2 separate regions of the Homo sapiens genome follow, and region 1 is linked to region 2. The links come from fine-mapping of genetic effects on gene expression. A gene starts in region 2. The other region holds a variant in brackets. All regions are shown on one strand. Distances are from middle to middle.

Region 1 (4,000 bases), 120 kb before region 2:
GATTCAATTCTGAAACCCCCAATCATTCCCCGAATCCAAAGTGGTTGAATAAAAGTGAAAACCTGGCATTCATAGCTTACAAATAAATCATGTTCCAAAAAAAAAGTCTGTCTCCAAGTCAGTTGTTTGGGAAACACAATGCATCCTTCCTTAGAAAAAATGTACTAAGCAACAATGATACCACTTTGCATGTGTGTAGTAAATTTCCATTTACAAAGAACATTTGGATCCATTATTTCATTCAATCTATGAAAAGCTCTGTGAAATATTAGGGATAGTTCCTGTGCTCAAAGAGGAAACTGGCTCACAAGGGATCAATGAGAAGCAGTCCATAAAAGGCCATTTGGCCCGTAATATTCTTCATGGGGAAATGCCCTAACTCACATAGGTGGGAAACAATTCTGCGGGAACATATTCCCAGTTCCAATGGGGGGCTGTGCCTCTGTTTTTGTTGGCCCAGTGACTCTGTCCATCCTTCCATCTCATGATGCGGCTTCTTATCATCCAGAATTTCATCCAAGTCATTGATAAAAACAGAACAAGGGCAGGTTCAGACCTGTGACCCTCTTCTGACCTCCCCCATCAGGAGGGCCTCAGACCTTAGTAGCACTTGATGCTTGCTGCATCCACCTGTCCAAACCATGTCAGCATCTCTTTCCCTATACCCTTCATCCTCCAGCCCAAAGCTCCTGCTGGGGTCACAGGACACCCAGAGCATGAGCTCCAGGAGGATACGGGGTAGGGATGAGACCAGGAAGGAACAGGAGAAGCTGTGTAGTGCTAGAAGGAGCACAAGGTCTCCAGAGAAGATGAGGAAGGAGGGGCTCTCAGCTAGGAGTTCCCCTCAACCCTGTCCCCATCCATTGCCTCATTACCACTGCAACAAACCCCCGGAAAAGGTAGGAAGAGGGCAGTCCTGCAAGGCAGCTGGCTGCAAAGACAGAGAGAGGAAGGAGGTGAACAATGCCCAGCAACAGTCGGAAAACAAGAAAGGGAGAGGAGGTTTGGGTCACAGACCTATCATGGAAGCCCATTCATTCAAAGAAGCTGGATTCAGGCACACTTTCTTTCCTTTGTTTGGTTAAAATTGACACATATGGTGGAGCTCTTTACCAGTGTTTCTTAGACTTCATCAGCAATGACAGGCTTGCTTATTATCCAGGAAGATTCTAGGCCACTGCTCCAGATGCACCCCTAGAGAGTCCAATTTCTAGCTCAGGGCAGCTTGATCAAGGTGATCCAAGGATTGCCCTTGGGAAACCCTTCCCTAGACCCCATGCTTCCTGGAGGCCACACCTCCCATGGACATCACCTCCGTCTCAGCTCTCTGTGTGCTCTGGCAGGTGGTGGTTGTCTTTCAGACAGACTGTGAGCTGCAGTTTGTCTGCAGAAGGACATGGCATGGTTTAGTTATATTTCAGGAACAAGCCCCTCCCTTGTTTTGTGTTATTTTGATTTTTAACAAATACCCCAGGACTGATATATGTATATATATAGGCAAACCTCACCCCAGGCTTGCAGCTGCTGCTTGGAGCATTACTGGAATGAATCCCTGGCTAGATATACCTTTCGGAAGAGCATCCATGGTGACAAATACGTCCTTGTAGGCTGGATTTGATAAGCAAAGGAAGCCAAAAACCACTTGGCACCAACTCTGAGGACTGAGGCAAGTGATCCAGCAGGAAAATCACATTTGGGTCTCAGGCCAAGGGTGACACTAAACCAAAGGGCCTGACATTCTGGCAGGACTCAAGCAGTCTCCTGGAGCATGAAGGAGGAAGAAGAGCTCCAATTCTTTCCCCAGGAAGGCCAGACCTCACTTGAACCAGCATATTTGCTTCAAAATTTTATCCGCTCTGTCATTTCAGCCTCCTCTGGTTTTGGACAATGGGCACTTAGCTCCCCACAATTGGTGCATTTCTACACCCATCCCTGGAGGAGAGGGGCAACCACAGTGAGGACTAGTCAGGCCCTGGGCAGGGACTCACCTTGCCAGTGATGCTTGTAGTCGCACATGCGGGACAGGGCAATCATCATGGCGCAGTACAAGGGCAGGATGGCAGCACAGAGCCGCCAGCTCTTTCCCCGCCCACTCTCGGTGAAGCAGTGCAGCTTGCCCGCCAAGTAGAACGTCGTGAAGCCAAGGCCCGAAAAGGCAACTGCCAAACAGAAACAGCAGGTGTTACTCTAGCAGGTGGTGAGTGGCAGGGACTCAGTGCGTGCTGGGCATTCCGTCTGCC[G/A]TCTTGCACACCCCCAAGGCCAAGGCCATGTTGGCACCAGGCACTATCTAGGCAATCTGTGCTCCTGCTAGCACCATGCTGCTATGAAACTTTCAACCATAAGAATAATCTTCCAGGGTTATATGTGATCAAAACCTATTTTATTTCATCCATTCATTCAATAGTTACTTCAGGAGTCTCCACTCTGTGCTAGACAGGCACTGCACTAGATGTGGGGAATAAAAAGATGCATCAGATACTATCTCTGGAGTCAAGAGGCTCATGGTCTAGTTGAAGGACATACCATGCTAAGAGATAATTTTAATATAATGTGATACATTCTATAAGAAACAAGTACATACAGAGCAAAGGACTGTGAGAACTGCTTAGATCTGAAGGGCATGGGAAAGTAAAGGGGCTAGGATCAGCCCCAGGTTTTTGGCTTGGGAGACTGAGTGTACAATGGTGGCATTCAGTAAGATGGGACCAGCAAATGCTACAAAAGAGTGAGTTTGATGGAGAAGTCAGCGATGACAAATACCTTGTTTTCTGTCCGAAATAATGGTTATTGTTTTTTCTGAATTGCAAAGACAACTCATGGCTGTGCTAAATCCATTGTCGAAAGTGTAGAGGTCTGAGTGTAGCATGTATAAGCCCCAAGCTTTACATCCAAGCAGGTATAAAACATAGTTGGGAGCTCAGTGAGATTTAAGTTGGGAAGCGCTTACAACAATGGTCCTCAACCCTGGCTATACAGAGTCACCTCTAATACCTGGGAAGCTTTAAAAAATACTGATACCCAGGTTCCATTGCCAGCCATTCTGTTTGTAGTGGTCTGGAGGGAGCTGAGAGAGAGAGAGAGAGAGAGAGAGAGAGAGAGAGAGAGAGAGAGAGAGAGAGAGTGTGTGTGTGTGTGTGTGTGTGTGTGTGTGTGTGTGTGTACTCCCCAGATGATTCTAATGGTGGCCACAACTAAGCTTAGAGGCTTTTATTGAAGGCAGGTGTTACAGCTCCCCATCCCTCTGGACACCAGTCTAATCCAAACTTTCTTCTTGATTAGAAAGTACTTCTGAGGGGATGGAGCTCCTAGGTAACCAGCCCACACAGTGACTTGGCAAAACGAGTATTATAAATACTCTCAATGCCAATACACCAGCAACTTTAAGAGACTGCCCAAAGCCCTGAGCCACGGTCTGGGCATCATGCAGGCATTTGTGACAAATGCAGATCCTCAGGTCCAACCCACACCTGCTGAGTTAGAATCTGTATTTCACAACATCCACCAGCGATCTGTGCACACACTGCACTTGGAGAAGCCTTGGCCTAAAATACATTCATTGTCTTTATAAGAGACCTTGGAAAGTCCATCTTAAGAAAATAATATAAAATGTAAGGGAAATCTAGAAGATTTTCTGCTCAAAGTTATTGATAAATATTGAAAAACTGAAAATGATCAGTACAGAAGAATAGATAACCAAGCTGTGACATTTCCTTGTAATGGACTATGATGCAACCATGAAAACCACATGATTATGTAACAATATAGACAATACTTAGGATGCATGCTAAGTGAAACAAGTAGGACCCTAAACTGTAAGTTCAAGATAATCATTACTATAGTACCAAACAGTGAACAACCTGCAGCTTTTCCAAATTATCTCTGATAAGAATGTGCCTTCTTAAAAGCGATCTCGGTTACAAACACAAGATTATACCAAAGTAGAACTTTTTTCAGCAACCAAATTAAACAAAGTTACAGTGGTTTAAAAAAAAATTTTAAT
Region 2 (4,427 bases):
ACAAAGGGTCATCTGTTTCTGCATGCTCCCAGCCGTCCTCCCAGAAGTCGGTACATGCCTGATACTAACAGCATCTGAACATCCAAGATCTGCCCCCTAGGGAGGCTCGCATCAATACCAAAGCTGGTTTTTGCAGGTAAAAGAGCCACAAGTTGGACACACTGTTAACAACTTGATAAGAAACCTGGGAGTCATCCAAAAATGCTATCAATGTCCATGTGTGACAACAGATCCCCTATTAAGTAACACAAGAGGGAACTTCAGAGAACAGAACATAAACTGCCTGTCCAGCTTTTACATGACACCCTTAGAAAAAGCAAGACGCGCATAAGCAATAATTACCAAGTTTTCAAATTTACTGCATAGACCATTGTATATCTGTAAACATCTCATAAATATTTGGGGGGGATATTGGAAGGGACACCTGAAAACTATAAATATTTTTACATATTGTTGGACCCTTTTTTATCTGAGCACCCCCAGCAGCAGTCAAACCAGATAGTGAGATAGTGTAAGAGCCTATCTCACTTTATCTCAGCATTCTTCCTACATTCACCCAACAAATGTTAAATTCTACTGTGCACTGAAAACTAGTTTATCATTTCTATCACATAATAATTTAATGAGGTTTTAGCCCATCTGCCAATTAGAAACTGTCCCCATCTGATCACACAGCAATCATTAGTTTTAACGTACATTCCAAAGGTAGAAAATAGAGTAGGAGAAGGGAAGAGTGTTTTGTTTTTCCAAATGCATCAAAATCCAACTGAAGTTCTCGTTCCTTCTTCCCAGTGAATAACACCAGTGTTCGGGCAGAAGGCGGGAGAGGGGGGCTTGCTTGCATCTGGGGGAGCTCATGGCCTTTTCTGATGGTGTGAATAAATACTCTGGATGAATTTAATCCCTGCTAAAGAAAAACATGCAAGAAAGGGCATTTCTTTCCATGTGTATCCCCTGGGCTGCCCAGAACAGAAGTCATCTTTGACACAGCACACCTGCCATGGATGACTCCAGATTGAGGCAGAAATTCAAAGAGGGCCTCCTGTTTGGCTCGGGAGGGCTTTTCCAGAAACGAAAACAAAAACAAACAAATAAATAAATGCATGGCAAATCCAAAAAGTTCATGTAACTTTAATACTTAGAATGTGGCAGAAAACATCCATGGGCAGAGAGGGGGAGAGAATTTGGCTCACTGATGGAGGGACCAGTGCAGGTGTGGGTGCCTAGGTGACAGCAGCTCACGGGAGGCTGCGGGGTGGCTCTGAGCTGGTGTTCTGGGCTCAGGTCTGAAAGAGAGATGTGACAGCTCCCTGCAGCTTGGGCCCTGGAAGTCAATGAGCGGTGGGTCCCTGGGCGCACGGAGGAGGCTCAGGCATCTCTGAAAGAACCTGCGCCACCACCCCTTCTTCTTTTCGGGATCGCTGTTCTCAGTGCCAGCCGCTCAAAGCCACCCTGGGCATTTCACGGCTACCCCTGGAGGGCCTCCGCCCCCAAAGCGGACATCGACCGGGCACAGAGCTCCAGGGTGTGTGTATCCCACCCCGGCCTGCAGCCCCTTGACTTCTCAAGCCTCCACAGCAACAGTTTCTCAGTAGGAGAAGCGCCGCAAACGCCCGCTGGGAAAACGCTCGCCAGGACCGCGGGCGCTAAAGCCAGGGACACGGAAGGAGTCTGGCCCTGGGCACAGCGGGGAGGAATCGGAGACGGGGCCAGGGGTAAAGACTTCCAACGTGGGCCTCAAAGATCACACAGAAGGAGAAACTTCCCGAGGGCACGGGCCAGGGTGCGCGTCCCTGTTTAGAGGTGCAGCCCTGGATCCCCCGGGCAGGTGGTGCGGGGCTGGCGACAGGCGCGGGCCCGGTGAGACCCGGGAGCAGGTCTCAGCCTCGGCGCGCGGTGGTCGCTCCGCGCCTAGGGTCCCAGGAAGGAGAGAGGAAGGGTCTCTCTTGGTCCCGTAGGACACGTTGCGGGCACTTGGCGGGGAAGGGACCTCGAACCCAGGCCCCAGTGGGAAGCGGCTGCGCAAACTAAGTTAGGGCACAGAGAGGCTTGGTCGGTTGTTCCCCCGCGTCAGTGCGCCCTGCCCGCGGTGCGCCACTACTTACACGAAGACTCCGAAGAGCAGGGCTCGCACCCCGATCTCAATGGCCAGCTCCCGCATGGTGCGGCCGGAGCAGCTCCCGCGGCGTCAGCTGGTGCTCTCCGCGGCTCCCGCAGCTCGGCCGGCGCCGGCTCGCCAGACCCTGGGAGGCGAGGGAGGCGCGCTCCAGGCCGCGGGCGGGGGCGGAGGCGGGCGCCGGGCGGGGGCAGGCGCCGGGGAGGGCTCAGCCTAAACCTCGCGCCTCGGGCTCCGGGGCTCCGGGAAGCCGCGCCGGCCGCTGGCGATACTGCGGACCCCGCCTCCTAGTGCGGAGCCGGGGCCGCCTCAGGGACTCCCGGATCCCTCTCCCCAGGAGCCGCCTCCGCCTCCTGGGCCCGCGCCGGGCACCCGCGGACCGGGGAGGGGAAGCCCGGGGAAGCCCCACCGCCGCCGCCGCCTCCCTGCGCGCTCCCCGCCTCCCCCGCCAGTGGGCGGCCCCTGGGCTCCGCGCCAGGGCAGCGCGCTCGCTGGGGCTCTGCCCGCGGCCCCTCTGCAGCTCCTGGTCCTGCCTCCGACTCCCGCTGTCCGGGCTCTCGCTCCCTGGCACACGCACGCACGTGGGCATGTAGTGGACGATCGCTCTGGGGATTCTCCAGGGCTCAGGGCAGCCCTGGCCAACCTTGCTCCCGTGTTCGGCCCTCCCTACACCGTTCGAACCTGAAATTCTTTCTTTTTTCTAGGAAGTTCCCCAGAGATCACTCGCGGGCTTCGCTTTGCTCTCAGGAGATGCCAGCCAGGGTCCAGGGCTCCGGCACAGAGAGAGGGCAAAGGCAAGCCTGGCTCCCCGCCATGCCACCAGCGCCAGGTGGCCCCTGGGGACCGAATCCTCTCTCCCCCACCACCTGTCCTCCGCCCCCAGCAGCTTGGGGCTGCTGAACTGTGGAATATGAAAAAGCTCCTGCCACCGTCCCTGGCCTGGCCGGTGTGTGGGAAGTCAGGGTCGCTCGTCGCTGACACAGCATTCAACCAGCCGTCAGCCAGGCAGCAGGTAGAACCCAGAGCCTCATCCTCAGGTTAAGAGCCAAAAGCCCAACCCTCGCAGCCTAGGGGTCACGACCTCCAGCTGGAGCCCAGCAGGAGCTTGGATTTGCTTTTCCCAAACCGGTCAGAATTTTATTTACTTTTCTTAGAATTTTGACTTCTTGGCTTCACTAATTTAAACCAAGCAGACATTTAAAATGCAAAACACACAGTGATTATAACCATTAGGTTGTTCCTGGGGAGCCCAGGCCTCTCTTGGATTTTAGGAGAGACCCAGCCAAAATTGTGTGAGCAGAGGACACGGATTAGAAGGTGGTTCCTGGGACTAAGGAGCTATGGCTCAGTCCTGGATAAAAGGGGGAGCAGGTAGAAAGAACTTAGGAGGAAGCCCTTGGCATCAGCAAAGGGCAAACAGACCCTACCTCCAAAGGAAACACGTGCAGATCAGAGATACCTGAGCCCAGATATCTCAGGGTCTAGAGAGAGAGAGGCAGAGGGAGTAGGAACAACCCAGGCTCTGTGTGGGAGGGACTCCAGCCCTGAGGCACCACAGGCAGGAGCTGTATCTGCATTCCTCATCACTCTATGCCCAGTGCCCGGCACACTGTGGATACCTGGTTGGTACTTAGTAAATGAATAAATATTTATTCATACATATATATATATATATATGGCTATATATATGATATATTCATTCATATATATTATATATGGCTATATATATGATATATATATACACGTATATATCATCAGGCACATGGGGTGTCAGGTGCAGGTAAGGTAGGAAGGTCTTGGAGGGAGGAGGTATGCTTCTGTCTCCTCTGTATCTTGGGCCCAGCAACTACCTTGGACATAACAACTCCCACGGATTGGCAAAGTGCTGTAGGAGAGCCCATAGGCAGCCTAGTGAACACTGATGATCTCGGTCTGAGATTGTCAGGTGGCCATATTCCAGCAGGGCATTCTGACAATAGCCCCTGACATTGGGGCACCACTTACCTATAAGCATCTGCTGAGTTTGAGTACAGCCTGTGCAAAGTTGTGTGCTGGGTGAGACGATTCATAATCTGTCTCTGCCTTCAAGAAGATGGGGAGCTGATAGACCACAAGGAGACATCAGGGAAGTATGCAAAGCAGTATTAATAAGTCACAAACACATGCTTCAGAAATCTGGATCGCTCAGAGGTCAGAAGTTGGAACCACATCATCAGTCTGAGATAGCCTGAGGACACAGCCTCACGGAAAGGAGCTGGCTTTTGGACCAGGCGCGATGGCTCATGTCTGTAATCCCAGCACTTTGGGAGCC

Alleles and levels. Positions count from the first base shown, and alleles are read on the strand shown. Sizes are in standard deviations (SD) of each study's normalised expression.
With allele G in place of A in region 1, the expression in cerebellum of the gene that starts at base 2,240 in region 2 is lower (large effect, 1.3 SD a copy in GTEx).

The links.
Region 1: its variant is fine-mapped to the expression of PLPP4 in cerebellum (GTEx, PIP above 0.99). The same link has a PIP of 0.9 or more in cerebellar hemisphere.

The regions. Positions count from the first base shown.
Region 1 is chr10:120,573,290-120,577,289 of GRCh38, reverse strand. It overlaps PLPP4 (phospholipid phosphatase 4), which reads right to left. Exons shown (of 7, transcript NM_001030059.3): 6 at 1,989-2,159. Among named protein-coding and RNA genes, the nearest start is that of LINC01561, 23 kb to the left of the region's middle. RefSeq lists an enhancer at 1,664-2,163. The variant G/A (reference allele first, on the strand shown) is at 2,241.
Region 2 is chr10:120,455,040-120,459,466 of GRCh38, reverse strand. PLPP4 (phospholipid phosphatase 4) reads right to left here and starts at 2,240. Exons shown (of 7, transcript NM_001030059.3): 1 at 2,106-2,240. The coding sequence starts at 2,161.